4 linked regions of the Homo sapiens genome follow. The protein of the gene in region 1 interacts with the protein of each later gene in a pairwise test. Each region holds a gene or a part of one and is shown on either strand. Other genes may lie near its edges. The genes, in order: AGTRAP, KCNK5, HSBP1L1 and MUTYH.

What was found.
Region 2: the proteins of AGTRAP (region 1) and KCNK5 interact in binary tests that used the Homo sapiens proteins (3 or more experiments, as listed by UniProt).
Region 3: the proteins of AGTRAP (region 1) and HSBP1L1 interact in binary tests that used the Homo sapiens proteins (3 or more experiments, as listed by UniProt).
Region 4: the proteins of AGTRAP (region 1) and MUTYH interact in binary tests that used the Homo sapiens proteins (3 or more experiments, as listed by UniProt).

What each region holds. Positions count from the first base shown.
Region 1 is NC_000001.11:11,738,818-11,746,574, reverse strand, and holds part of AGTRAP (type-1 angiotensin II receptor-associated protein), read right to left. Parts: intron 2,043-7,757; coding exon of another isoform or gene 2,007-2,042; intron 773-2,006; coding exon 738-772; intron 449-737; coding exon of another isoform or gene 352-448; intron 1-351. UniProt on the Homo sapiens protein: Appears to be a negative regulator of type-1 angiotensin II receptor-mediated signaling by regulating receptor internalization as well as mechanism of receptor desensitization such as phosphorylation.
Region 2 is NC_000006.12:39,187,912-39,191,673, forward strand, and holds the end of KCNK5 (potassium channel subfamily K member 5), read right to left. Parts: coding exon 2,979-3,762; 3' UTR 1,060-2,978; downstream 1-1,059. UniProt on the Homo sapiens protein: K(+) channel that conducts voltage-dependent outward rectifying currents upon membrane depolarization. Voltage sensing is coupled to K(+) electrochemical gradient in an 'ion flux gating' mode where outward but not inward ion flow opens the gate.
Region 3 is NC_000018.10:79,960,103-79,968,269, forward strand, and holds the start of HSBP1L1 (heat shock factor-binding protein 1-like protein 1), read left to right. Parts: upstream 1-4,540; 5' UTR 4,541-4,633; coding exon 4,634-4,684; intron 4,685-6,509; coding exon 6,510-6,576; intron 6,577-7,986; coding exon 7,987-8,081; intron 8,082-8,167.
Region 4 is NC_000001.11:45,336,522-45,345,180, reverse strand, and holds the start of MUTYH (adenine DNA glycosylase), read left to right. Parts: upstream 1-5,210; 5' UTR 5,211-5,282; exon of another isoform or gene 5,283-6,983; coding exon of another isoform or gene 6,984-6,995; intron 6,996-8,659. Other genes in the region: TESK2 (dual specificity testis-specific protein kinase 2), read left to right, coding at 1-341; TOE1 (target of EGR1 protein 1), read right to left, coding at 1,479-2,099, 2,179-2,338, 2,538-2,797, 3,074-3,232, 3,612-3,708, 3,838-3,878, 3,966-4,108, 4,859-4,928. UniProt on the Homo sapiens protein: Involved in oxidative DNA damage repair. Initiates repair of A*oxoG to C*G by removing the inappropriately paired adenine base from the DNA backbone. Possesses both adenine and 2-OH-A DNA glycosylase activities.

The sequences.
Region 1 (7,757 bases):
CTGCTGTGCTGCAAGGAAGACTCAGGGGGACAGGGACTGAGTCTACCTCATTTATTACCAAACCCACTGGGCCTTGCCTTCCCCTGCATGCAGCGGGCGCTTCCTAGATTTATAGGACATTCACTAAAGTGTAACATGCAGAAGACATGTGCAAGGCAGGTGTGGAGTGCCATTCGGTTCAATAGGTCTTTGAATAAACCATCTTATCTTTTGCTTTTAAGAAAGCAGGTGCCTGGGTCCCAGCCCAGAATCACCAACTCAGAATCTTGGGGAAGTGTGACTAAGAAATCTGTATTTTGGCCCTGCTTCTCAAGGTCGTGAATCATGATGGTTACAGTTCACATTACTCACAGCTGTTGCCCTGTGCGCTGCACTTCGAAGTTTGCAAAGTGCACAGGTGAGCTCAATGGTTTCCAGTCTTGGTTTGGCAGAGAAATGTCTCCAGAAGCTCAACAGATTAAAAGAGATGGTAAAGGTGAAAATCAAGCTGCAGTGCTGAGGCCTCACTGTGGGGCAGGCCCTGGGGAGCTCTGATGAGCACTTCCACGTCTCCCTCCCAGCTCCTGCAGGGTGTGCAATCCTTATGCCTATTGTACAGACGGAAATCAAGACCCGGAGAGGCAGAGCTGTCTGGCCCAAAGTGACCTGGTTAAAACACGGCAGAACCAGGACCTGACCCGGCTGACACAGACCCTGAGACCGCAGGAGACACACAAGATACCCACAGAGTCACTTACCAGGTTGTCAGCAGCCAGTGACCTAGGAGAATCACCTGTGGCACAACAAGGGGGAGAGAAGAGGTCTGTGAACATGACCACCACAGGGGCAGGAAAGCGTCGGGTGCAGAAAACACAGGACGCCCCTGCGCCTGGCACCTCTGAGGGCCTCAGTAATGTCTGTTGAAAAGGCACACCAGCAACTGCAGGTGGCCCAGGAGTGAAGGAGGAGGAAGAAAGCAGGCCAGGCCAGGGAGGGGCCGCTTCATGCCTTCACCCCTCCCATGGGGCAGCTGACACCCACACCCCTTCCAAGCGTCAGAGGCGTATGAACCAGAGCAATTCCATCTTGAATAGGAGCTGGGTAAAATAAGGCTGAAACCTAGTGGGCTGCATTCCCAGATGGTTAAGGCATTCTAAGTCACAGGATGAGACAGGAGGTCAGCACAAGGTACAGGTCATAAAGACCTTGCTGACAAAACGGGTTACAGTAAAGAAGCCGGCTAAAACCCACCCAAATCAAGATGGCCACGAGAGTAACCTCTGGTTGTCCTCACTGCTACACTCCCACCAGCACTATGACAGTTTACAAATGCCATGGCAACGTCAGAAAGTTACCCTATATTGTCTAAAAAGGGGAGGCATGAATAATCCACCCCTTGGTTAGCATACTATCAAGAAATAACTATAAAAATGGGCAACCAGCCTGGGCGCGGTGGATCACACCTGTAATCCCAGCATTTTGGGAGGCCGAGGTGGGTGGATCACCTGAGGTCAGGAGTTCAGGACCAGCCTGGCCAACATGGTGAAACCCTGTCTCTACTAAAAATACAAAAATTAGCCGGGCATGGTGGTGTGTGCCTGTAATCCCAGCTACTCAGGAGGCTGAGACAGGAGAATTGCTTGAACCTGGGAGGTGGAGGTTGCAGGGAGCCGAGATTGTGCCATTGCACTCCAGCCTGGGCGACGAGAGAAACTCCATCTCAAAAATAAGTAAATTAATTAATTAATTAATTTTTTTAAAAAGGGCAACCAGCAGCCCTCAGGGATGCTCTGCCTATGGAGTAGCCATTCTTTTATTCCTTTACTTTCTTAATAAACTTGCTTTCACTTTACTCTATGGACTCGCCCTGAATTCTTCCTTGTGCGAGATCCAAGAACCCTCTCTTGGGGTCTGGATTGGGACCCCTTTCCTGTAACACAAGGGTGGGAGGCTCCTTTGTGGAATGCAGGGAATCTGCTCTGAAATCAGAAGAGGCCTCGATGGGAAGCGGAGCGGTGGGGACTCACGTGAGGGTGATTTCTTGGGACACTGGAGCTGGCGCACTGTGGGGGGCAGAGGGGAAAGCAGCTGTTGTGGCTGGAGAGAGCGGGCAAAGGGAGGGTAGCTGGGGACAGGTAGGGGGGCCTGAGGGCCTCGGGAAGGAGCGTGGGCTTCATGCCAAGTGCAACGAGGGACACCACTGAGACTTTTCTACAGGGAGATAGCTTGGTATGCCTTATGGTAAGGAAAAACAACAACAAAATCCCCCTGGCTATTTTTCTGGATTTCTGCAATATTCTACTTTTTTCTTTTTAAATTTGGAGACAGGGTCTTGCTCTGTGGGTCAGGCTGGAGTTCAGTGGCGCCATCACAGCTCACTGCAGCCTCAAACTCCTGGGCTTAAGTGATCCTCCTGCTTCAGCCTCCCCAGTAGCTGGGACTACAGGTGTGTACCACCACGCCCAGCTAATTTTTGTTTTTTTGTAGAGACAAGGTCTCCCTATGTTAACCAGGCTAGTCTCAAATTCCTGGGCTCAAGCAATCTACCCACCTTGGTCTCCCAAAGTGCTGGGATTACAGGCAGGAGCCACTGCACCCAGCTACAATATTTTACCCTTTTTAATGTCCTCTGTGTCCTTAAAATGACAGCCTCCTCTCCTGGAACTGGTCTCTACTCCGGGACATCAACAAGGCCCTGACTGGAAAGCACATAGAAAAAGGGCAGATGGAGGCTGGGCACAGTGGCTCACGCCTGTAATCCCAGAACTTTGGGAGGCTGAGGTGGGCAGATCACCTGAGGTCGGGAGTTCGAGATCAGCCTGACCAGCATGGAGAAACCCCGTTTCTACTAAAAATACAAAATTAGCCGGGCATGGTGGCACATGCCTGTAATCCCAGCCACTCAGAAGGCTGAGGCAGGAGAATCGCTTGAACCCAGGAGGCAGAGGTTGCAGTGGGCCGAGATCGCGCCATTGTACTCCAGCCTGGACAACAAGAACAAACCTCCGCCTCAAAAAAAAAAAAAAGGAAAGAAAGAAAAAGGGCAGATGGGCTGGGCGCGGTGGCTCACCCCTGTAATCCCAGCACTGTGGGAGGCCAAGGCAGGTGGATCACTTGAGGTCAGGAGTTCGAGACCAGCCTGGCTAACATGGCGAAACCCTGTCTCTACTAAAAAGACAAAAATTAGCTGGGCATGGTGGTGGGCACCTGTAATCCCAGCTACTCCGGAAGTTGAGGCACGAAAATTACTTGAACCTGGGAGGCAGAGGTTGCAGTGAGCCCAAAATGGGCCACAGCACTCCAGCTTGGGTGACAGAGTGAGACTCCATCTCAAAAAAAAAAAAAGAAAAGAAAAGACAGATGCCTTGGGAGGGCAGGCAGCTGCAGAAAGAGCTTCCAAAGGGAAGGGACCCAGGCTGAGCACAATGTATGAGCGGGGCTCGGCCAGGCAAAGTGGGGCCAAGCCCCAGGCCCTGCATGGGTGGCGGTGGGCATGGAGATAACTGAGGTCGGGGTGGGGTGGCACAGAGACTTTGGGAGGCCAGGAGCCCCAAATTGGGAGCTTCAACGGGCCTGGTGGTCAATGAGGGCCCTAGAAGTTTACTCAAGGGATTGAGGGGTCAGGCTGGAAGGGAGAGATGCCACATGCCTGGGGCAGAGGCAGTGTCCTGGCGCAGACATGGGCAAGGTTTGCGAAGAAGGCCGGGGTTTCTGGCCTGGGTGGAAGGGCAGAAGGAGCCCTCACCACCTGCAAAAAAGAACTGTGGGCCAGGTCTGGTGGCTCACGCCTGTAATCCCAACACTTTAGGAGGTGGAGGGAGAAGACTGCTTGAGCCCAGGAGTTCGAGAACAACCTGGCTAACAAAGTAAGATCCTATCTCTACAAAAAATCAAAAAATTAGCCAGGTATGGTGGAGTACATCTATAGCCCCAGCTACCTGGGAGGCTGAGGTGGGAGAATCACTTGAGCCAGTGAGGTCAAGTGTACAGTGAGCCAAGATCATGCCACTGCACTACAGCCTGGGGGACAGAGCAAGATCCTGCCAGAAAGAGAAAGTAAGGAAAGAAAGAAAAGAAAGAAAGAGAGAAAGAGAAGGAAGAAAGAAAGAAAAAGAAAGAAAAGGAAGGAAAGAAGGAAGGAAGGAAGGAAGGAACGAAGGAAGGGAAAGAAGGGAAAGAAAGGACAGAAAAGAAAGACAGACAAACTCACTCTGGCAGCAGAGGAAAAAGCATTTCTAGAAGAGTTACTCTTGACCACACACCAACTATGTGCCAGGCCCTATGCCAACCGTCTCACATGACCTTATCTGGACCTCACAGCAGCCTCTGGTACTATTATTCCCATTTCACAGATGAGAAAACCAGACTCAGAGATAAATTATGTTGATCAAGACTCCACAGGTAGCAAGTGGCAAAACTGGAATTAAATTTCAAACTCGCCTCCAAAACCAGTGCACCCAACCTCCCCGCTGGGGGCGCAGGCCTTCAGCTGGGAACTGTTTGGGCTTGTGAGAAAGGTCCACACATGGGGGCAGATGGAATCCAGAGCTGGTGGCTGAGATACTTCACCTTTACCTCCAGGGCCCAGGGCCAGAGTGAACCACAAGGGGCCTGGCTCTGTGGCCCAAAAGAAATTCCTTTCTCAGCTCCAAGAGACTAGGAAAATAATTCTGTAAGGACCGATGCACCCAACTTTAAGATCTCGAGACTCTGACCAGGCTGAGTAGTGTGTTACAGAAGTCTAGCTCTAGAAGGAATCTTCGCCATCACCTCACCTACCTTCGTCTACTATTGAGCGCTTCCTATGTGCTAGGTGCCATTCTAAGTGCTTTCTGTATATAAATGCACTAAATCCTTACAATCCTCTGAGGTCTTATTATCCCCATTTTACAGCTGAGAAAACTGAGGCTCAGAAGGAAGTAACTTGCCCAAGGTCACAGAGCAGGCCAGTGGCAGAGCCAGGACTCAAACCCAGGCTGTGCTGTCCAGCCATTAGGCCTCTCCCCATTACAAAGATGGGGAAACTGAGGCAAGAGAGGTGTAGTCTTCCATGGATTTCAATCCCCAGGGGCTTGAAGTGATAAACGGTGTTAAGTTTCTTAAACATTTAGTGTCACCCAGCATCACTGGCACCTGCTTTTCATTCACCCTGGGGAGTCAGAGGTGTGCAGAGCAGATTCGGAGCTGCGCTCTCAGTACTGACCTCGCTAACCAGGTACTCTGCCCTAGGAATGGAGGTGCAGTGAACCCTCATCCCGAAGGAAAGCACCTGATTGAAGGAAAGCATCCTGAAGGAAAGCAAGGGAAAGGGCACCTGATTGAACAGCAGGGAGGCTGGGAGGGTTGGGGTGGTCAGGGGCTTCTCTGAGGAAGGGATGGGGGAGGCTGAGGGGGAAGAAGAGCATTTTGAGCAGGAGGGGCGGCACTCACAAAGGCTCTGTGGCAGAAGGGGGGCGTGGAACTTTCTGGAAACTGAACAGAAGCCAGTGTGGCTGGAGTGGAAGGTGAGGGGAGTGGAGGAGGGAGGGACAGGAAGTTGGGGGCAGGCAGGGCTGGGCATGAGGACGATTCTGATCTTTATCTTCAGAGCTAACCACTGTCCCCTCCATCTGATAGTAAACCCTGGACCACAGACAGGAAGGAACTTGCTCAGGGCCACACCGCAGAGTCAGCCACAGTGGTCCCAACATCCAGCTTTTAAAGAAGACACCGAGGAAAGAGACAGAGGGAAGGTAGCTCCCATCACCCCTTTCCTCCCCAAAATCGACACCTAACTCTTCCCACTCTGGGCTTGTTTTGGAAATGATCTTCATTTTCAATGCTCTCGCTCCTATGCCTAGACTGTACACAGAGTAGGTCTTTAATAAATGGGCCCTGCAGAGCCCTGGATTATTCCGGAAAGAATGGCAGTTAGCATGAAAGGCTGAGTCCCAGGGGGGCCTCTGATCCGCAGGATACCCTAAGGGTCATGCTTACAACCTATGAGGTAAAGGCTTTTCCTAGCGCTGGAAGGGCCTGTAATACAGAGTGAGCACCCAGCTGGGCCCACACCTCTGCCATCTCTGTTAGGGAAGAAAACAACGTAACCTGGAAATACTGCAGATCCTTAGCACACACACAGTCTCCTCTGCGTGACGTCACTTTGGTTTGATAAATATGAACAAAGTTAGCACCAGTTGCTCCTCTTAAGCCCCTGGGAAAAGAAACGTCCAGAAGCCTAAGCCTCCCCTGCCTCAGTTTCTTCATCTGTGTAACAGGAGGACACCCAGAGAGGCCTTAATGTGCAGGAAGACTCCAGGGAGAAACTGAGCCAAACGGGCCCTGCACTTCCTGGCAGCCCAGGGAAAGAGGGGCCAGTAACTGTCAGGACAAAACCACTGTCTTTTGGCCCTGGGGGAGCTTCCTGGTAGCCAAAGAGACACAGGATTCTCAGGTATGGCCTGAAAGAGGAGCTGGAAGCAGGGAAGGAACCTGAGCTAAACGGGTGGCAGGGCCAGGACCTTTCCCAGCTGGGCAGGAAGGACGGACCTGAGCCCCTGGACTCTCACTACAGTGCTCAGCCCAGGGGAGGCCGCCCAGCTCTTTCCCAGACAGGGGTCAATGGACCAAGGCAGCAGAGGGTCCCAGGATGCTATGCTGGAACAGGAAACCTGGGTGCTGGTCCAGGCGCCAAGGCCTCAGGCTCCTTTCTGCGAAACGGAGGCAGTACCCATTTGTCCCACGGGGGTGCCTCAACTGCCAGAGACAAGCATCTATCTGGACGGTCACTGTAAGTATCCGTTTACTAACTGTTAAATACCTATGTGGGGCAGGGATCCTGCATCATCAACGACAGCAGCAACTCCTGCTACTGACAAGCACCAGCCTGCCATGCATCTACACTGCACTGCCCCTAACTCATGTCATCCGTGTAACTGTATGGGGTAGAACTGAGGCTCTGAGAGATTAAGTAAATTGGCCCAATTCATAAAGCTTACAAACAACAGAGCCCAGACACAAATGTCAGAATCAATCTATCCAGCCAGAGTTTTTGTTTGTTTTTTTGAGACAGAGTCTTGCTCTGTCGCCCAGGCTGGAGTGCAGTGGTGCGATCTCGGCTCACTGCAACCTCTGCCTCCCGTGTTCAAGTGATCCTCGGTGCCTCAACCTCCTGAATAGCTGGGACTACAGGCGAGCACCACCACACCCAGCTAATTTTTGTATTTTTAGTAGAGGTGGGGTTACATCATGTTGGCCAGGCTGGTCTCGAACTCCTGACCTCAAATGATCCACCTGCCTGGGTCTCCCAAAGTGCTAGGATTACAGGTGTGAGCCACCACGCCTGGCCCAGCCTGAATTTGTAACCCTAATTCTAGACTACGTCCTGGACCATGGATCCATCATCCTAGGAGGTAGGGACTGTATTTAACTTCTTTTTACAATGAAGAAATAGATACTGAGAGAGTTCAGAAACCTACTCAAGGTCACACAGAAACCTACTCAAGACCTTGAATGCAGACCTGCCTGCCCCCAAAGCCTGTGCTCTGTCCACTGTGCTACACCGTCAGGATCTCGAAGAGCCGTAGAGGGCAGATGGAAATGAGGAAGTCTAACCTGGAGAAGGAAAGGCTGAAGAGAAACCAGCAGGGCATGCAGACCAAGACTTAAACCCTTTGTTTGCCACTAGAGGACCCATGGCGGGGTAGGACTTCCCAGAAATGGAATAAACTCCTACCAGTCCTGTGCAAACACTTGGTGGCCTGTTACACGTGCTAGTGAGATCCCCCAGGGTGGCCGGG
Region 2 (3,762 bases), on another chromosome or scaffold:
CCTTGAGGCTGAATGTGATTAAAGCAAAACCGGAGAACCTTGGACCTGTGTGTGATGGCAGGAGAGGGGTCGGGGGGAGCAGAAAGAGGGCAAGAGGGAGTGATGTTGGCAGAGGGAGGGATGGTGTCGTTGCAGAATTGGCTGGTAAATACATATAATCCTTTGTAAACACATCCATGCCCTCATGAAAAATGTGGTTCACTCCGGAAATCATACTTTTTTTTTTTTTTCCAATGAACTCAGAAATCATCCTTTCTGGTGCTGAGCCCTGAAATGGTCATAGAAGGGGCCAGTCCCCAAACAGCTGAAGCCTGACAAAGCCTCCCTTTAGACAGATGGAGACAGATGCCCGGCTGAGCCTGGCTCCATTCTTCCTTCACATTCTTTCCAGTCCACAGTGCCCACGCTCAGGCTCTACATTTCCTGCCCACCCCTTGAGTTGAGAAGGCTTGAGCTTCGCTCAAGTTCTCTGGTCCACCTACCTGGAGACAGGAGCCCTTTCCAGAGATGTTGGGTGTGCCACAAAACCACAGGTAGTCTTTTTCATCTCATCACAGTGGTAGAGGGGACAGGAGCTGGGCTGCCTGGGTTTGAATCTAGTCTCACCATTTTTACTGAGATTTTGCACAAGGCAACTTCTCTGTGCCTGTTTCCTCGTCTATAAAATGGAGATGTACTGATGCCCTCTCAGGGTTCTTGCCAGGTCAAATGAGTCCACTCACGTATTATTCAGTGCAAGCATTTAGTGCCTGACAAAGTGGTGAGTGACATGCGTTTGCCATGATCACCCCGCCTCTCCCCTTGCTCCTCCCACTCCTTCCTGATTCTCAAACCTCTACTGCAATGTTCCTCCCGCGTCCTTACCTCCCCACAGAGGCCTGCCTCTCCCCGCTCTCTTCATCTCTTTTCATTCTTTTCTCCCCTCCAGACCATCCAATCCTCTTATCAGTCTGTCCTGAGTCCTCTCTATCTTCTGTGGATGCGCCCAGGCTCCCCTGCTGCTCAGAGGCCAGAAGCCAACCCCTCTCTAACCTGACCCACACACAGCACACACCAAGCTGGCCTGTCCACCTCATGTTTTATTGTAAAAATGTTAAAATAAATTACATTTGACATCGTTGCCAGTATGTACATACAGTGTGCGCGATGCCAGGACAACCAGCAACAACATGGTTCATTAAAACATTTCACAGAAAAATACGAGGCTGCTCCTTTTCAGGCCCCTGCTGGGTGGCGGCCTCTGCAAACGGCTAGAGAAGTGGGGGTGTGGGCACGTGCCCATCACTGTCTTCACATGTTGGGGAGGTGGGCTCTGGCCCCACTGCCCCACAGTAGTGGGGCAGAAGGCAGAGAGTGAACGGAGCTGAGCGGCTCTGATGACTTGCTTCCTGCCCGGCCTCCAGTCACCCGCAGTGGATGCCCCTTCCTGCTTTTGCTCACCTCAGTGTCCCCTTCTCCACCTCTGCTTGGGGACATGGCCCTTGACATCATGGCCTTGGATGAGGTCACCGAAAAAGGCCCAATTGAGTTGCAGGGCAGGAGGGCAGACACTAGATCTCCCAATCCTTGGGACCCTGCTCTTTAACCACTGGCTCTGAAGCCAACAACAGATTCCAGGTATATAAAAACAGCAGTTTGTTTAAAAAATAAAACAAAAAATAACAAAAACATTCAGGACACAGTGGGCCAGCCCCAGGGTGAACATCATGGAGAACCCAAGAACTCTAGTAGCAGCAAGTTCTGCCCACCCCTCACCAGAGAGTCCACCAACAGTTTCACATTATCTTTTGCTCCCCAGCCCAAATCCTTTCCTTTCTTAAACACACACGAGTGCACAGGTGTGCGTGTGCACACACGCACTGTGCACACACACGTGCACATCAAACACTAGCTAGAGAAAGGAGCTTGATTCACATATCTGACCATCACCCATTTGTGGGCCAAGAGCAATTTGGCCTCACCCTGCCTGGCCCAAGGGGGCTGGTGGGAGGGGAAGGCGGGCAGTGAGGTCCTTGTTCAGGGCACAGGGAAGGAGAAGACAGCAGGATTGGGAGTGCAGGTCCTGGGGCCAGCGGGCAGGGTGTGCAGTTCTCAGGCGGGCAGGAGGGGTAAGGGCAGAACCAGCCAGAGCTGAGCCTCACTCTTGCAGCTCCCTGGCCACCAGCCCTAGCAGTCCCGGCTTCCAGTAACCCATGCTCTGCTACTCTCCCTCCTACCACTTGGGGGCCCACAGAAAGCCTTGCGTCTGCCACTGCTTGACCTGAGACAGGGAACACAGCTCTGGGCTGGGCCTGAGTAGACCAACAAGGAGGATGAGGACCCCAGGCCCCAGGCCCACATAGGACTTGTTTCCAGGCCCTGTGAGTCAGGACTGTTTGAGACCCTGCCCTCATCTCCTCACTCCCACCTCCAGCAGCCTCCACCCCACTACGGTTTGTAGTAGGTGCCCGACCTGACCGGCAGGCCCACAGCTGGGATGCGGGCGGGCCCTGCTCCTGCTGTGGTACGGAAACACCTGACCCCACGCACAGCGGTACCTCCCCAGACACTTCAGAGCTCCCTCTCCAAATGCCGAGCTCAGTAATACCGGTAAACTTAAACAGCTGAGGCCCCAGACCTCAGAGAACCGTGTGATACTCCACCAAATGGTGAGACAAAGACCCTGCAGGCAAGGCCTCCTCAGGGTCAGTCCTGCCCACCTGTCCCGCCAGCCAGCATGTCTTTGCATTGTGAGATACACCAGCCAAGCTCAGGACAGATGCCCCCACAGCCAGGGTATGGTTCAGCTGGAGAACAGAGGCCCTGTCCCGGGCATACATCTAGCTGAGGATGATGGAAGGTTAGGAAGGCCCCTGGCCCCCCACTCCCAGTTCCGAGGCTGCCCCCCCACCAGGGGCCAGGCGTCCCGGTCATCTCGGGACACCCTAGGGTGAGGGGGGAAGAGGCCATCAAAGGTGGGGTGGGGAGCCGGCCCTGCCTCATGTGCCCTTGGGGCTGTTAGCCTTGTTGTACTCATTCATCAGCTGTTCGTAAGGCACAGAGAGCTCAGACTCAGTGCTGGTGAAGGTGGACTCGGAGGAGGAGGGGAACTCGCCCATGTTCAGGGGCGCCTTGGCTTCAGCCCCCTGCTGGGGGCTCTCCTCCCCTGCCAAGTTGTCCTCTAGCGAGGACTTGGAGGTCTCCTCGTCTGAGAGGCCAGCCTCCGTGTTCACGAAGGTGATGCTGGCGTCCTGGAAGATGAGTGGGTGGTAGTCCTGGGCGTCCCATGGCTCGCATTCCTCGCTGATGCGGTCCAGCTGGTTCATGAACACCTCGGGGGCAGGGGAGCTGTCTTCAGGGGCCCGTGCCACAGCCTCCTCATCTGGGGACCTTGATACGTGGCCTTTGCTCCTCAGTGTCTGTGACACCTCTTCCAAGGTGGGCACCCGGTTCTTGGAGTAGACTACCAGGGGCACCAGGGAAGGGGGCAGTGCTGGGAGCCCACCGCCTTGAGGCCCCAGCCCTGGGCCCGGGCCCGTCTCCCCACCCCCGCTTGTCTTCATGGCCTTCTTCCCGATCTGCTTGATGAGGTCGTTGTAGGTCTCTTCCTTCTTGGAAAGAAAGCTGAAGATGTTGACGTCCTTGGAGGCTGTGCTCCCCTTCACCTGCAGGGCCTTCCGGGAGTGTGGGGAGCTCTCAAAGGACTCCTTCCGTCGCCGCCGCCGCTTCTTAATGGCTTTGTGGACTTCCACAAACATGCTCACCTTCCAGTTGACAAAAAGG
Region 3 (8,167 bases), on another chromosome or scaffold:
GGTAGAGGAGACCACTTTGAAGACCCGCAGTCCATATTGGCATTGTAGAATTTGAGCAGAGGGCCATTTTGTTCTGTACTAAGAAAAATTCTTCTGCCTTGAGATGCTGCTAATCTGTAACCCTACCCCCAACCCTGTGCTCCCTGAAACACGTGCTGTGTCAACTCAGGGTTAAATGGATTAAGGGCTGTGCAGGATGTGCTTTGTTAAACAAATGCTTGAAGGCAGCTTGCTCGTTAAGAGTCATCACCACTCCCTAACCTCAAACCACTCCCTAATCTCAAGTACTCAGAGACACAAAACACTGCGGAAGGCTGCAGGGACCTCTGCCTGGGAAAGCCAGGTATTGTCCAAGGTTTCTCCCCATGTGATAGTCTGAAATATGGCCTCATGGGAAGGGAAAGACCTGACCGTCCCCCAGCCCGACACCCGTAAAGGGTCTTTGCTGAGAGGATTAGTAAAAGAGGAAAGAACGCCTCTTTGAGGTTGAGATAAGAGGAAGGCTTCTGTCTCCTGCTCGTCCCTGGGCAATGAAATGTCTCGGTGTAAAGCCAATTGTATATTCCATCTACTGAGATAGGGGAAAACCGCCTTAGGGATGGAGGTGGGACATGCTGGCAGCAATACTGCTCCTTAAGGCATTGAGATATTCGTGTATATGCACATCAAAAGCACAGCACTTTTTTCTTTACGTTGTTTATGATGCAGAGACATTTGTTCACGTTTTTACCTTCTGACCTTCTCTCCACTATTATCCTATTATCCTGCTGCCACGCCCGATAATGATCAATAAATACTAAGGGAACTCAGAGGCCGGTGCCAGTGTGGATCCGTATGCTGAACGCCGGTCCCCTGGGCCCCCTTTTTGTTTCTTTATACTTTGTGTCTCTTTCTTTTCCAAGTCTCTCGTTCCACCTAACAAGAAACATCCACAGGTGTGGAGGGGCAACCCACCCCTTCACTGTGTTGTCTCCATCAGATCCAGCTGAAGAGCTTTGCTCGAAAGCCAGTCCTTGGCCAGCATGGCCTCGTGCCTGTAAGTCCAGCGCTTTGGGGGGCCGAGGTGGGAGGATCACTTGAGCCCAGGAGTTTGAGACCAGCCCTGGCAACATATGGAGATCCCTGTCTCTAGAAAAATAATAAAAAATAGTAGCCGGGCATGGTGGCGTGCCTCTGTAGTCCCACCTACTCGGGAGGCTGAGGCAGGAGGATCCCTTGAGCCCAGTTCAAGGCTACAGTGAGCTATGATTGCACCACTGCACTCCAGCCTGGGTGACACAGCAAAACCCAATCCCAGAAAAAAGAAAGGCAGTCCTGTCATCTCCACAGACCACCCGGCCTATGTCGGTGAGGCCTGAGGCTGCTGTGTGCGGCGATGCTGGGTGGTCCTACTCGGGCTGCCCAAGAAGCCTGACCTGAAAAAGCAGCCAGGGCTGGAGGGACGGCCCAATATGAGCCTGGCCGATGCCGGCTGGAGAGGAGAGAGGCGTTCCCAGGTCAGAGGCAGGCTCGTCTCGTCTTCTGCAGGGCCAGTTCCAGGCTCGTGTGGGCCAGTGGGGCTCCCTGCTCGTTTAGCTGTCTGTGGTTAGGAACGCATAGCCCATGAGGACAGGGTGCCCAGCTTGAACCTGCACCCAGAGTCAGCCAGTCAACATCTGAAGATAACGGGTTCCACAGGGTGCCCACAAGCTCTCCAAAGTCCCAACGCCAGTCTGCCTTCACGGCTGTCCGAAGTGCTTTATCACTGGTGAGCTCAGTGCTGTCAAGAGCTCTGTGGCCCCTGCTCCGCCTGAGTAAGGGAGGAGCGGCAGCCAGGGAGCAGCCCCGCCCTGGAGACACCGAAAGCCCTTGGGTCTGCGCCTGCCCCCACCACGAGGGAGCCGTCCCCTGAAGCCATGAGCTTGATGCTGGGCTGTCCCTGGAGTAAAGCTTCCGGGAACTCCGTGCCTGCAGAGTAAGGGAAGAGGGGACGTTCTAGAACTTTCTGGAAGGGAGGAAGGAGGGCAGTCTGACTGGCTCCCTGCTCATTTAGCTGTCTGTGGTTAGGAAAGCTGCCTGTGGGCTGATGAGGAACCCTGTCGTGGCCCTGCCGTGGGGCACCACTGCCCATCTCCTCCCGCCTCCAGAGATGAGCGCCCTCTGAAGAGCTTGGAGGGCTGACGCCAGCCCGCTGTGTCTGCCTCCTCTCTACAGGCGTAATTTCCTTTTCCCCTAAGTTAGCTTGAGTGACTTCTGGTTCTTGACACTGAGGTGTGTTTCTGATGGAAACACCACCGGCTTGTACTCCTTGCCCCCCACGCCAGGCAGGCTTTCCTGGGTGCAGGCCGTCCACCCTGTACTGTGGCATCTTCTGGCCCTGCCTCCTCCTCCTCAGCAGCCACCCACACTGGCTTTCCCGAGAAGCCAGAAGCCGCCCGGCAGGATTCCTTAGGCCTGAATGGTCCTGGGAGTGGGCCGGGAGCCACAGCACAGCAGCCACTTTCCACCCACACCGCGTCTTTCTCAGCCGTCCACACTGGCCCCTACAACTAAGTTTGTATCTCAGCCTCTCTCAGAGACAGAAAAAAAGAGGAGGATGCTAAAAGCACACAAAAAGTGGCAAAATGGCCATGCTTTTAAAAAATAATTTTAACAGCTTCATTGAAATGTAATTCACATACCACAAAACCCACCCATTTAAAGGGCATAATTCAACAGTTTTGAGTATATTTACAGGGTTGTGAAACCTTCTTACGATCTAATTTTAGAACATTTTTGTCCCCCCACAAAGAAACCCCAGACCTCCTAAATCTCTCCGCACTCTCCCTCGTCCCTGCAGCCCCCAGCAACAGAAGTCAACTTTCTGTCTCCGTGGCCTTGCCTGTTCCAACTCTCCATGGACTTACCACTCAGGGTCTTCACGCCTGGCCTCTGCCACCCAGCGTTGTTCCGGAGGCCCGCCTGCTTCGTAGCGTGCGTCAGCGCCTCACTCCTTTGTGTGGCTGAGGAATATTCTATCATCTGCATTTTGTCACCTACTTATTGGGGGTGGACATTTGGGTGGTTTCCACCTTTTGAGCATTACTGATGCTGCAGTAGACTTGGTGCACTCGCGCTGTCGTTTCGGTATATGCCTAGGGGTGGCGCGGCTGGGCCCTGTGGAAACTGCTTCACTTCTGAGGACCCACCCGACTTTTTCACAGCACTGCAGCCTTTCACAGCCCACCGGCTGCGTGGGGGGGGCCACAATCCCCACACGCCTCTCGGACTTACGTTTGTCTCTCTGATTCTAGCCATGCTGGTGGGTTGCAGTGGGAGCTCATTGTGGTTTTGGTTTGTGTTTTCCTGATGACTGGTTGTAATGAGAAAAACCGAGAATCACATTTAAAACCTTACCCTAAAGTGGGAGTTGCTGAGAGACCAAAGAATGACTGGGCGGAGTCCAGCTTGGTGAGTAGGTGAGTTTATTAGGACTCACATGTGGGGCACTCGTGGGCAGCAGGACAACTCTAGAGATGAGCGTGCTTCTGTCCCTAAGCTGCTTTTGAGCTAATTTTCTGCCTCTTTGCGCCGTCTGTGTGATGGGCCTGCTCCCTGTGGTGGTTCTCACATCCCCTCCGGGCTGTTTGGGTTCTCAGGGACACCTGCTCCTCGCTGGGCACCGTGGCCTGGACTCACCGCCTGGCCTTTAGGGTTCAGGCCACAGACATCCGCCCTGAAGTAACCTGGCGGGAACCGCCACGCCACAGCGGTGGTGCTGGGTGGCTGTGTTTTATTTATCCGCACATGGAGACACCAGAGCTTCCAGGTGTGGTCACTGGGCTGTGCCCTAGGGATGCTGGGGTGACCAGACATAGCCCTGTTCCCACAGCGCTGCACAGGGGCACAGACATGGCAACAAGACTGGTAACCCTAAAACACCGTCCTGGGAGGTCACCCACAAGGTGACGAGCCACAACCCAGGTGTGAAAGAGGCCAGGGAAGGCCCGGCGTGGTGGCCCAGGCCTGCGGTCCCAGCACTTTGGGAGGCCGAGGCAGGAGGATCACTTGTGCCCAGGAATTCGAGACCAGCCTGGGCAACATAGTAAGATCCCGTCTCTACAAAAAATAAAAAAGATCAGCCGGACCTGGTGGCGCGCGCCCGTGGTCCCAGCTACTGGCCAGGCCGAGGCAGGAGGATCGCTTGGGCCCGGGAAGTCGAGGCTGCGGGGAGCCATAGTCGCCACTGCACCCCAGCCTGGGCCACAGAGCGAGCCCCCGTCTCTGAGAAACGCAGCAGGGGTGACCGAGGCCCATGCACTGCCCGTGCGGAGCGTTTTGGGGGTGTAGGTGGCCGGTGGCGCCCACGGGCCCTCTTGAGTAAGGCGGCTCCGCCCAGGCCGTCCCGGGGCCTCGGCTCGGCTCGGCTCGGGAAGCCGCAGAGCCTGGGGGCGCGGACCAGTCCTCCGAGGCGGCCGCTCGGTGACATTGCGTCCCTGCAGGTGCAGCGCCCGCCTCTCCGCTCCGGCCCCGCCTCCGCCCTGGAACGCAGCGCGCTCCGCCCGAGGCCTCCCGGCGGCCCATACGGGAATCGCGGAGCTTAGCTGTCGCCACCTCGCGCCGGGTCCGCGCGGCCCACGGGACCCCCCACTGACGCCCCCGGCCAGCGGTCCACATGGACGTGCGGGGCCCTGAAGCCCCCGGCGGGCGCGCGCTGCGGGACGCGGTGAGCCCCTCCCCGACTCCTGCTTCTCTCTGGATGGGGGCGCCCCTGCGGTTCTGGGGGGTTTTGAGGTCCTGGGGGGGGAGCCTGCGGTGCTGGGGGTGCCCTGCGGTCTTCGTGGGGCCCTGAGGTCCTGGGGGGCCTGCGATCCTGAGGACTCCTGTGGTCCTGAGGAGTCCTGAGTGCCTGGGAGGCCTGTGGTCCTGGGGGGGCCCCTGAAGACCTGGGGGACCCTGCGGTCCTGGGGGGGCCTGAGGTGCAGGGGGGAGCCCTGCTGTCCTGGGGGACCCTGCGATCCTCGGGGGGCCTGAGGTCCTGGGGGGAGCCCTGCAGTACTGGGGGGCATTGAGGTCGGGGTCAGTGGGGAAACAACTGGGCCAAAGGGTGCCCGAAAGGGGACCCACGAGTGTCGCAGCGCCCAGGGCTCCGGCCTCTTCCGGGAAATCCTCCCGCTCCCCAGGCCTTCCTACTTGCCAAAGAGTTCCAGGCCCACAAGAGGACTGGCTATGAGGAAGAGACCTGGAATCTGAAGGAATGTGTTGGGCGTTGTGCAAACCCTAACGTAAATTTCCTGACAAAGGTAGAAAGCCCTGGCATGGTTCAGAGGTGGGGCCTCCTCCTATGTCGACGGGATTCTAGATTCACACCATGGTACGTGGGGCTCCCTGGGATCTTGAACCCCCAGCTGGGAGAATTTTGTGCTTCTCAGCCTCACTGTTCTCATCTCACCCTGGACACGGTCGCAGGGTGAGGAGTAGATTACACCGTGAATGGTGTGGGACGTCAGTCTGTAAACTACAAAGCAGTATATAAACAGGAAACGCTTTCAGTAGCAATGGTGGTATTTCTGTGTGACCTGGTAAGTAATTTCATAAGAATTCTTGAGGAGCGCAGGGTCACGAGATTTTCTCCTGCATCCTCCTCTGCATGCTTTATGGCCTTGGCTCTGGGCCAAGGTGTGTGATCTCCTGCATTCATGGTGTGTGGTGTGAGGAGGGGGATGGGTCCCTGCCCCGTCTGCACGTGGCCCTCATGATTCCCGCGCTGCTTGTTGAAAAGACTTTCCTTTCCCTCTGAATCCAAAGGCCTTAGCACCTTTGTCAGAAGTCAACAGATTTATGGATGGGTTTATCCCATGATATTTATTTTTTTTATTTTTATTTTTTGAGACGGAGTGTCACTCTGTCGCCCAGGCTGGAGTGCAGTGGCGCGATCTCGGCTCACTGCAAGCTCCGCCTCCCGGGTTCACGCCATTCTCCTGCCTCAGCCTCCCGAGTAGCTGGGACTACAGGCGCCCGCCACTGCACCCAGCTAATTTTTTGTATTTTTAGTAGAGATGGGGTTTCACCTAGTTTGCCAGGATGGTCTCGATCTCCTGACCTCCTGATCCACCCGCCTCGGCCTCCCAAAGTGCTGGGATTACAGGCGTGAGCCACCGCGCCCGGCCTTATCCCATGATATTTAAAATGTCATACGTGGGCCAGGTGTGGTGGCTCATGCCTGTGATCCCAGCACTTTGGGAGGTCAAGGTGGGCAGATCACCTGAGGCCATGAGTTCAAGACCAGCCTGGCCAACATGGTGAAACTCCGTCTCTACTGAAAGTATAAACATTAGCTGGGCCTGGTGGCACATGCTTGTAATCCCAGCTACTTGGAGGCTGAGGTGGGAGAATCACTTGAATCCAGGAGGCGGAGGTTGTAGTGAGCTGAGATCGCGCCATTGCACTCCAGCCTGGGCAACAAAACAAGACTTCATCTCAGAAAAAAAAAAAAACTCATATGCCAACAGTAAATATTTATTCAATTGTCTTACGGTTTATTTTTTCAGGCAGAAAATCTATTTCAGGAACTTCAGGAACATTTTCAAGCTCTGACGGCAACATTAAACCTCAGAAATATCCTTTTCTACCTTTAACAAATGCTGTGATTCTTTCGGACTGGTAGATTATCATGGAGTATCTTTTTGTTGTCTGGTAGTAGTAGGTAATAGTTTACTTAGGATTTCCCAGTATTTACTTCTGTGCTTTTATGTGGCTTCCTGATGTGTTAATTACCCCTCACCTATAGCAAAAGCTGTACCTCCGGCCGGGTGCAGTGGCTCACGCCTGTAATCCCAGCACTTTGGGAGGCCGAGGTGGGCAGATCACGAGGTCAGGAGATGGAGACCATCCTGGCTAACACAGTGAAACCCCGTCTCTACTAAAAATACAAAAAATTAGCCCGGCATGGTGGCGGGCGCCTGTAGTCCCAACTACTCAGGAGGCTGAGGCAGGAGAATGGTGTGAACCCGGGAGGTGGAGCTTGCAGTGAGCCGAGATCGCGCCACTGCACTCCAGCCTGGGTGACAGAGCGAGACTCCGTCTCAAAAAAAAAAAAAAAAAAGCTCTACCTCCTGCTTGACTGGCAACACAGGATGTCTTGTGCAGCAAGTATAAAGGACAAAAACACAAACATATAACACTTCCCAGTGGGGCTTCCATCAGTCCCCAACCGGACAGTGCCCCCTAGACCATAGACCCCACAGAGCATAACACTGAAGCACAGGATCCCAGATACGGCTCTCCCAAACTTTGTTTTGTTTAGTTTAACATCGCCAACTCACTGTTTTGTCTTAGAAACATGAAATCAAACAGAATGAGAATATAATTTTTTTTGGAGTTGGAGCAAATCTAGATAAGGGTCACAATTGCCCCAAGACTTGCCCAATTTGAGCTCATGCTACACAATTAAATATATTCCTTAAATATTGTGTGCTTGCAACTTTTGATTTTGTAAATGGGTTCCCACAGGACAAAAATGAGTCTTAAACATAAAATTAAACCATATGAATGTTAGTTTTTTAGTTAATTTCAGCTGGGTGGTAGTCTATAGTCCCAGCTACTCGAGAGGCTGAGGCAGAAGGATCGCTTGAGCCCAGGAGTTCAGGGCTGCAGTGAGCTGTGATCACACCACTGCACTCCAGCCTGGGGGAAGAGCAAGACCCTACAAACAAAAAAGAGTTAATTCCATTATATTTATTTTTACATACCCAGAGTTTGACTAAAATATACCAGACAATCTCCTGTCCCCAAATCCATGTCCAAGCAAGGGGAGCCACGTTTTCTAAGCTCACAGTTTAAAGGTTAAAGAGACACACTGAGGAAAACTCAGGGAAAGAAGCTGATTTGCATGGACACTAGGCCTGTCGTTGATTCCCTCATTTCAAAAGTTGCATGTGCCATGGGAGGCGGAGTCTCTGAGGACATCCTGGCTGTGCCTCGGCGGCTCTGGACTCCAGCTCTACGCAGAGCGCCTTAACACTGTACTGGAAGAAATGGGAAATCGCATTGAGGACTTACAGAAGAATGTCAAGGACTTAATGGTGCAAGCTGGCATTGAAAATTCTATTAAAGAACAAATGGTAAGGTTATTAGCAAACTATGTCAACCGTTTTCGTATGTTTTGACTGCTTTCATCTTGAAACATACAATCCCATATTTGTTCACT
Region 4 (8,659 bases), about 34 Mb from region 1:
GTTCGCCTGAGTTCTTGCATCAAGAGGCTTGTCCATTTGTGGGCCGGGAAGAATCGCTATCTGATGGGCCCCCACCACGCCTAAGTAGTCTCAAGTACAGAGTTAAAGAGATCCCACCATTCCGGGCATCTGCCCTACCAGCTGCTCAAGCCCATGAGGCTATGGACTGCTCCATTCTCCAGGAAGAAAATGGTTTTGGGTCCAGGCCCCAGGGGACCAGTCCATGCCCTGCGGGTGCTTCTGAGGAGATGGAGGTAGAAGAAAGGCCAGCAGGCTCAACTCCAGCCACCTTCTCCACCTCAGGCATAGGCCTGCAAACCCAGGGAAAGCAGGATGGGTGAGGGGGTTTAGTCCCTGCCTCACCTTGGGGATGGACCTTCAGCTGAAACCATATGGCCCCCTAGGTGCACAGCCTTGATTCTTCCCTGGAGCCTACAGAGCAGGCAGGCTAGGCCAAGCCAGGCTCAACTTCTGGGCTCCCAGTGCCCATTGGCTGTGTATGACGGGAGGCAGCAGTGAGAGGCCTTCCTAGTTAGGGCCAACAGCTGATACCAAGCCTCTGAAATCCAGCAAGGAGGTCTGCCTCCCACCAGACCCTCTCCAGTGTACTTCCCCAGATAGGACCAGAGGATGTCTAGTTCTAGGCTGAGCTGGCAGGCAGCTATTACCCCGGTTCTTTCCCCACCCCAGGTCTGTCTCTTGCCTTTTCTTGGGGCATATAAGCTACTGAGTGGAACATGGAGCTGATCAAGAGGCCGTAATGGTCATGGCTGTTTCCCAGACCTGAATATTGGGGTGCTTCTTGCCAGTATTCTAAGACATTTGAGTAATTGCTGTTTGCACTTACTGCATGGTCAGACCACGTCACTACATTTCTATGCAAGGGGACAGCAAGGCAGCGTGGTGGTCATGGCTCTTAGCTAACCTATTCAAAGACCTTTTCCTGTTGATTAATCTATTTTCATATTTATAAAGGAGTCTTAATGTTCTGCCCCATAAGACTTTCAACCTTGTGGTTGGGAGTGGGGCTGGTTTTGTAGGCCCTAGGGCCTGCTTCTATGTATTTATCAACATGTGATACATTCAATTGGTTAAATGGTTTATACAGGGACTGATTTGCTTCCCTTCCTGCCATGGCTGGAGCTTTGGGAACAGTCTGTCCTTACAGAGCTGCAATAAGAAATAACCAAAGATGAAGCTGGTCAAATATTTTCATAACTTGCTTCTGTTGATTTTTTTTTTTGTAAAACTTTCCCAAGACATTTTCAGACTTAAAAATAAAGTCAGTGTTACAGGTGCTGGTCAGCCTTCTTACTTGTACCTCAAACACTGGGATAAAGGAGGCGGTCCAGGGCAATGCAGTGATGTCTGTCAAGACATTCCCCCTCCCCTAAACTCAGTAGCAGTTGAGGATGACATTTCAGGCTAGAGAGACCCAAAATACCTCTGTTCCACCTGAGAGCAAGGTGGAAGTTGCATCAGCTACTGCCCCAAGTGAGCTTCATCTTCTGATTGTGGGCTTTGGAGGAACGAGAGAACTGGCTCTTGGCCACTGTGAGGGGTACAGCTTTGCCACTCAAATATACCTTATTGTGGCATTCAGGGAGCCAGGGTCCAGAGCTGCAGGGCTGCGGTCCCTGGCTCACTTCCACATAGGCCATCACATAACCTGTCATAAAGGCATCAAAACCAGCCCGGTGCAATCCATCCCCAGGCACTGGGTTAGGACTGGCTTGGCTCCCTGGCACTTCTGAGGTAGCTCTATCAGCTATTTCAGGCCTTGCTGCCTTAATCCCCATCTCTAAGTCATTTTTGTTGCCTTGCTTGGAGTGAGGCAGGTTCCTAGTTTCATCGGCAGCCACCTCCTGCTCGGTTTCTTCAGGCTTGATGCTATCCCCACAGACCTGCTTCTTGGGAGGACCATCCTTAGCTTCCCCAGAGGTCTGTGTCCCCGGTAGGTTCAATAAAGCCCTCTTCCGTTTTTCCCTACGTCGTCGCCGTCGCCGCTTGTCCTCTGCCGCAGCCTCATCAGTGTCAATGATAAGGTCAATATCGTGAGACTGAGGACACTGTGGTCCCAGGGGGCACCAGCCATAAGCCTAGGGGTGGGAAAGAGGCTTAGAAAGAGGCTCCAGGCATCAGAACCTTCCCTCCCAAGAAACAGGTGGGTGCTCTCACCGAGAAGTTGTCACAGATGCTGGTGGGATGAGGACGGTGGGTTGCTGGGGGCAGGCAGCAGCGGTAATCAATATGGTCCCTCATGCTGGAAGGATAGTTGCAGAACTCCAGGGTAAGGTGTGGGCTGCCAGCTGCCCGCTGCTTCCCATTTTCCCGTTCACTGCAACAGCGCAAGAGGGTAATGGTCCACTAGCATATAAGCTCCATAAGAGCAGGGTTTTGTGGTCTGTTTTGTTCACTGCTGAATCCTCAGCACCTAAAACACTGCCTGGGCACATGGTAGGAGCTCAATAAATATCTTAAGTGAATGAAATAAACTCGTATCAGGCCCCACCCCTTTCCCTCAACCATTTCCTCACCATTTCCGGAAGGCATATTCTAAGTAGGAGGCCACGAAACGGGCATGAAACTCAGCAGCATATTTGGTGTCATAAATGCCTGCTGGGAACATCTCACACAGGTCAGCGGTGAAGGTTCCCAGACTCTCAGGGAGGTGTGCATAGAAGTTCTGGTACAGGAACACCAAGTCTATAAGGCCATTGTGTAGCACCAGGGGCCGGCGGGCTCGGATTAGCTCCAGGAATAGGGTCCGTACTGACTGGCTCTGGCTCTCATCACCCTAGATGAAAGTAAAGGGGTCAATGAGGAGGACAGAGTCCCCCAGGGAGCCTCTTCTGCTGGGCACTTATCCCAGACTTCCCCACTTGGAACGCTCTCTCTCTACCTTACCCAATGCTGCCCACCCTCCTCATACCAGTCTTGTTTCCCAAGCCCTGTCACTAGTGATTCCCCATACTCCCTAAGAAGCAGATTCTCCCCAGACATCCAGCCTAGGGTAGGAAGAAATAAAGTCACAGAAAGGGCAGACTCAAGGCTAGGGAGGCTAGAGGCCTACCTTGTCATTGCCCTTATGGTAGGGGATGCCTTGGGCATACTGCTGGTTGAAGTTGAAGCCATGCTGTATCAGGAACTGCACAGACTTTGGTTCTATGACATACTCCTCCATGCACAGCAGAGTGAGATTGAACACTTGAGCCAGATAGGAATGTTCACCCTGGGAGAAAGAGAAGTCTGCTATATCAAGATTTCAGAGAGCCAAGCTAGGAGGATGCAAAAGCTTAAGAATGATACAATGGACTCTGGGGACTCAGGGGGGAAAGGATGGAGGCAGGTGAGGGATAAAAGACTACGCATTGGGCACAGTGTACACTGGGTGATAGGTGCACCAAAATCTCAGAAATTGCCACTAAAGAACTTACTCATTTAACCAAACACCACCTGTTCCCCATAAACCTATTCAAATAAAAAAAAAAAAACTATCAAGTCAAAAAAAAAGATTTGGGAGAGAAATGCTTCCTATCTGATGTTCCCTAGAATCTCTCTACCCTCCACCCCACAGCCACACCTAGGATTGGGGTGAGATCAGCTCATACCTTGTCTGGCTGCCGCTTGAAGCAGGCGAGGCCCAGGGAAAGGATAGAACGGGTCCTGGCAGCATGACACACGGCCTTGTAACGTTCCTCAATGCACCTTGGGGTTGGGTATGGGGGTTGCTGTGGCTAGGAGTTAGCCTTATGAAGGACCCAAACCACCCAGGTCTGTGACCCCCCCACTCCACAGTTGAGGGCTGGCACTAAAGAGAAAAGGGCTTATACTTACTGGTTCAGCAAACTCTTCCTGTCCCCAAGCCCACTCAGCTCCTGTGGGTAGGTAAAGGGAGAGTTGTGACAGGCCTCTAGCACCAGCCCCTTCACAACCACCTGCCCTCCTTGTTTCCCAACTCTCACCGTGTCCACAGCCACGAAATTAGCTGTCTTTATGGCTAGCAGGAGGGATGGCCACATCTCCTTGAAGTTGTTGCTTTGCACATCCACTACGGGAACCTGGACTACTAGCTCCTCCCCAGATGTTGTGCTTTTGCTGACACCACCTGGGGGTTAGGAGGGTGATGGATGTTCATGCTTAAGGAAAGAGCCCAGGGGAACAGACACCAAGCTAGGCCACGGTGATGGTGGTAAGGGGGGTAGTTTCCATTGGTAGCTTTTCCCACAAGCCTTTGTAACCCACGTGTTCTACACACAGGCCTTGGAGTGGAGAATGCCCTGAATTTGGGGAGAGGAAGCCTGAGTCTTCTACTGGCTTGTATGAGCCTGGGTAAATTACTTCCCACCTCGCTTTCACAATCTGTAGAGGAGAAAGTTGGACTAGACGACCTTTGATTCTTTTTTCCCATGTCCTGCAGGAAACATTTTGTAGGGCTTGAGGATCTCAGCTCCCTTAATATCCCACAGGGATCCATACTACTGTTCTCATGGTGCCCCAGCGCCACAAGCAACAGCTCCCAGTAAGCCCCAGAGCCTGGCAGTGCCCCACACCAGAGCTCCCAATACGTCCTACCTTCCTTTGGATCACAACGCTCAATCCACTCCACTGAACTGAATCACAACTATTACTACTAACCGTTATGAGCTCCAGACTACATCTCCCGCCATGCCTCCATCAGCCCCATGCTCCCAACGCTCCAGGCTTTTGCAGCCGGAGCCGCGGTGTACAACGGAACTTGTAGTCTCCTCGTGGCTAGTTCAGGCGGAAGGAGCAGTCCTCTGAAGCTTGAGGAGCCTCTAGAACTATGAGCCCGAGGCCTTCCCCTCTCCCAGAGCGCAGAGGCTTTGAAGGCTACCTCTGGGAAGCCGCTCACCGTCGGAAGCTGCGGGAGCTGAAACTGCGCCATCGTCACTGTCGGCGGCCATGACACCGCTCGTCTCCCGCCTGAGTCGTCTGTGGGTACGCTGGACTTGCGGTCCGTCTCCTGGCGCGGTTCAGGCAGTCGGGGATGGGGCGGGGTCTCGCCGTCGGGTCGCCGATGGGTCGAACTTCCGTTCAGACGTCCCGGGTCCGGCGCGGGGAAGGCAGCCTGGCGCGCGCTAATTGCCTATTGGCCTGTGCTGCCGGCTCGCAGCCCGGGTGGACCCGAGCCACGCCCCCTGGAGTGCGCCGGAAAGCCGGGCGCGCTAGAGCTCGCGGGAGGTAATCTTTCTCTCCTGCTCTCGCGGCGGGAACGCGGGGCCTCCGTGTTCTGCTGTCTTCATCAGCGTGGGCCGCGGGTAGCGGGTAGTGGGGTGGCTGGGTTTGGGCTTTCCAGAGAAGGTGACGCTGCCTGAGCTGAGCTTAAAGCACGCCCAGGAGTTAGACTAGGAGAGGGTCGTGTGGGGGAAAGAAGGGCGTTCTGGGCATCGGTAAATTCCCAGAGAGGATGGAGAGCTCAGTGATCTCCAGAAAGTGAAAGAGGCGGGGAGTGGGCCATCGGAGGAGGCTGCCCAGGGTGTAAGAGCGACCGATTGGTAGGGAAGCTTTTGTAATAATCCAATCAAGTGATAATGTGAACTTGAATTAAGGCTGGCAGTATGGATGGCGAGGAAGGGACAAATTGTGAAGCAGCTAGGCGGTATAGTCGACCTAGAGGGTGATTGAATTTGAAAGAGGTTCCTAGGCCGGGCGCGGTGGCTCACGCCTGTAATCCCAGCACTTTGGGAGGCCGAGGCGGGCGGATTACCTGAGGTCCGGAGTTCAAAACCAGCCTGGCCAACATGGTGAAACCCCGTCTCTACTAAAAGTACAAAAAAAATTAGCTGGGTATGGTGCGGGCGCCTGTAATCCCACTACTTGGGAGGCTGAGGCAGGAGAATCGCTTGAACCTGGGAGGCAGAGGTTGCGGTGAGCCGAGATCACGCCATTTTGCACTTCAGCCTAGGCAACAAGAGCGAAACTCCGTCTCAAAAAAAAAAAAAAAAAAAAAATTCCTATTGGAGACTAGTCCCTCCGTAAACACTACGATTCCCATCCACCTCTGCCTTCCAGTGCTCCTTTGTTACTCATTGTTTATAGTTAATCTTCAGCTTCTCTCAACTGAGCCCATTTCATCATTATTCAGAACTGCTTGGGCCGGGCGCAGTGGCTTATGGCCTGTAATCATCTTAGGAGGCCAAGGTGGGAGGATCGCTTGACCCTAGGAGTTCAAGACTAGCCTGGGCAACATAGTGAAACCTTGTCTCTACAAAAAGAAAATTAAAAATTAGTTGGGCATGGTGGTGCGCACCTGTAGTCCCAGCTACAGGAGGCTGAGGTGAGAGGATGGCTTGAGCCCAGGAGGTCGAGGCTGCAGTGAGCCATGTTCTTATTGCACTCCAGCCTGAGTGGCAGAGCAGCAAAGTGAGGGACACACTGTCTCTAAAAACAAAACAAACAAACAAAAAAAAAACAAAAATAAAAAAACTCTTTGGATTTCTCCTATCCTAAAAAAGGGAAACTCTTTTGACTATCCCCCATCCCATTAATTCATTTAACAGGTATCTATTGTGTACAGTTTACCTGGCACTGACTTTGGACACACACCAATCAACAAGAGAATCAGTCCTTGCACTCAAGTCGTTTTTTACAGTCAAATTCAGGAAGTACACACTGATGGAAAGAATCAAAGTAATGTAAAATTACATTAGGTAAGAGCTACAAGGCAGAAATATGTGATAGGATAAGATGAGGGGACCTGATTTGGACATTTCAGTCAAGACTTGAAAAATGATAAGGTGTTAGGTAAAAGCATAAAAGAGTCCAAACAGAGGAAATGGATTGTGTGAGGCCCCAAGGTGGGCAGACACACTTGAGGTGTTTAAGCAACTAAATTCAGTCAACCTTGGCTAGAGCATAGTGAGGGGATGAGGCGGATGGTGCCCGGATCACTGGACCTGCAAGGCTGTAGTAAGAGGACTGCCTTCTAAGAGCAAGGGTGTGGCAGCCAAATCCCTCCAATGGCCTATAAGGTACTTTGTGACCCTCCTCTCCCCACCTCATCTGGTTTACTTCTCTGACCTCTTCTACCACTCAGTCCCATCTCATTCCATTCTAACCACATTGACCTACTTACTGTACCACAGACATACCAGGCACCCTCCTTGGGGCCTTTGCACTCACTTAGAATGCTTTGGGTCTACCTTGACCACAGTCTTTAAAATTGCAACATTAAACCCCACCTTGGCACTCTTTTTTTTCCCCTCTTGGTCTAATTTTTGCTTTTTATGCTAATATTTATCACCTAACATCTTATGGAATTTACTTATGTTCATTATTCCTTTTCTGTCCCCATTAGAATATAAGCTCCCTGAGGGCAGGAACTTTTGATGTTTTATTTACTGAAGTATGCCAAGTGCCTAAAACTGCTTGGCACATATTAGGGGGCTCTATAAATATTTGCTCAATCTTTTTTTTTCTTTAAGAGACAAGGTCTTGCTGAGCCCAGGGTGGAGTGCAGTGGCACAATCATAGCTCACTGCAGCCTCGACCTTCTGGGCTCAAGCTGTTCTTCACTTCAGCCTCCAGAGTAGCAGGATTACAGTGTTGAGCCACCACAACCAGCTTGCTCAAGAATTTAATGACCCATAGTAAAGGCCTACAGTATTTAAAAAAGAAAGAAAAAGGAAAAAAGGAAGGAAGGAAAGAGGGAGGGAGAAAAAAAGAGAAAAGAAAGAAAATAAAAGAATATAATGGGGTGTCACCAGGCGCCGTGGCTCATGCCTGTATCCCAGCACTTTGGGAGGCCGAGGCGGGTTGATTGCTTGAGCTCTGGAGGTGGAGACTAGCCTGGGCAACATGGTGAAACCCTGTCTCTAACAAAAATACAAAAATTAGCTGGATGTGGTGGTGGTGTGCGCCTGTGGTCCCAGCTGCTTGGAGTTGGGGTGGGGTATTGGGGTGGGAGGATTGCTTGAGCCGAGGAAGCAGAGGTTGCAGTGAGCCAAGATCACACCACTGCACTCCAGCCTGGGTGACAGAGTGAGACCCCATCCCAAAAAAAAAAAAAAGAATGGGAAACCATTGAAGGTTATAAGGAAGGAAGTGACGTGATCTGGAAAAGATTCCTTTGCTCTTTGGAGAATAGATTGTAGAATGAATGTGGAAGTAAGCAGGTTTGGTGAAGGAAGTTTGGCTATGAAGGGAAGGAGGGTGGGATTTGATTGTGTTACGAGCCAAGGGGAAAATCTTTCCCTTTGCCCTCTGAAGATCTGCTGAAAAATCAGCTCACAAAAGGCAGGTTAACTGGAGAAAAGGCATACAAATTTATTAACATGCACATTGGGAGAACCATAAAGTGATTACCCATCTCCCTACAGAGTTCGTGAGTTTATATACCATCTGGCAAAACAGATTATGGGAGGGGTGTCTCACGTGTGTCCATGTGAAGAGACCACCAAACAGGCTTTGTCTGAGCAACAAGGCTGTTTATTTCACCTGGGTGCAGACAGGCTGAGTCTGAAAAAAAGGAGTCAGCAAAGGGTGGTGGAATTATCATTAGTTCTTATAGGTTTTGGGATAGGCATTGGAGTTAAGAGCAATGTTTTGGGGGCAGGGGGTGGATCTCACAAAGTACATTCTCAAGGGTGGGGAGATTATAAAGAACCTTCTTAAGGGTGGGGGGGAGATTACCAAG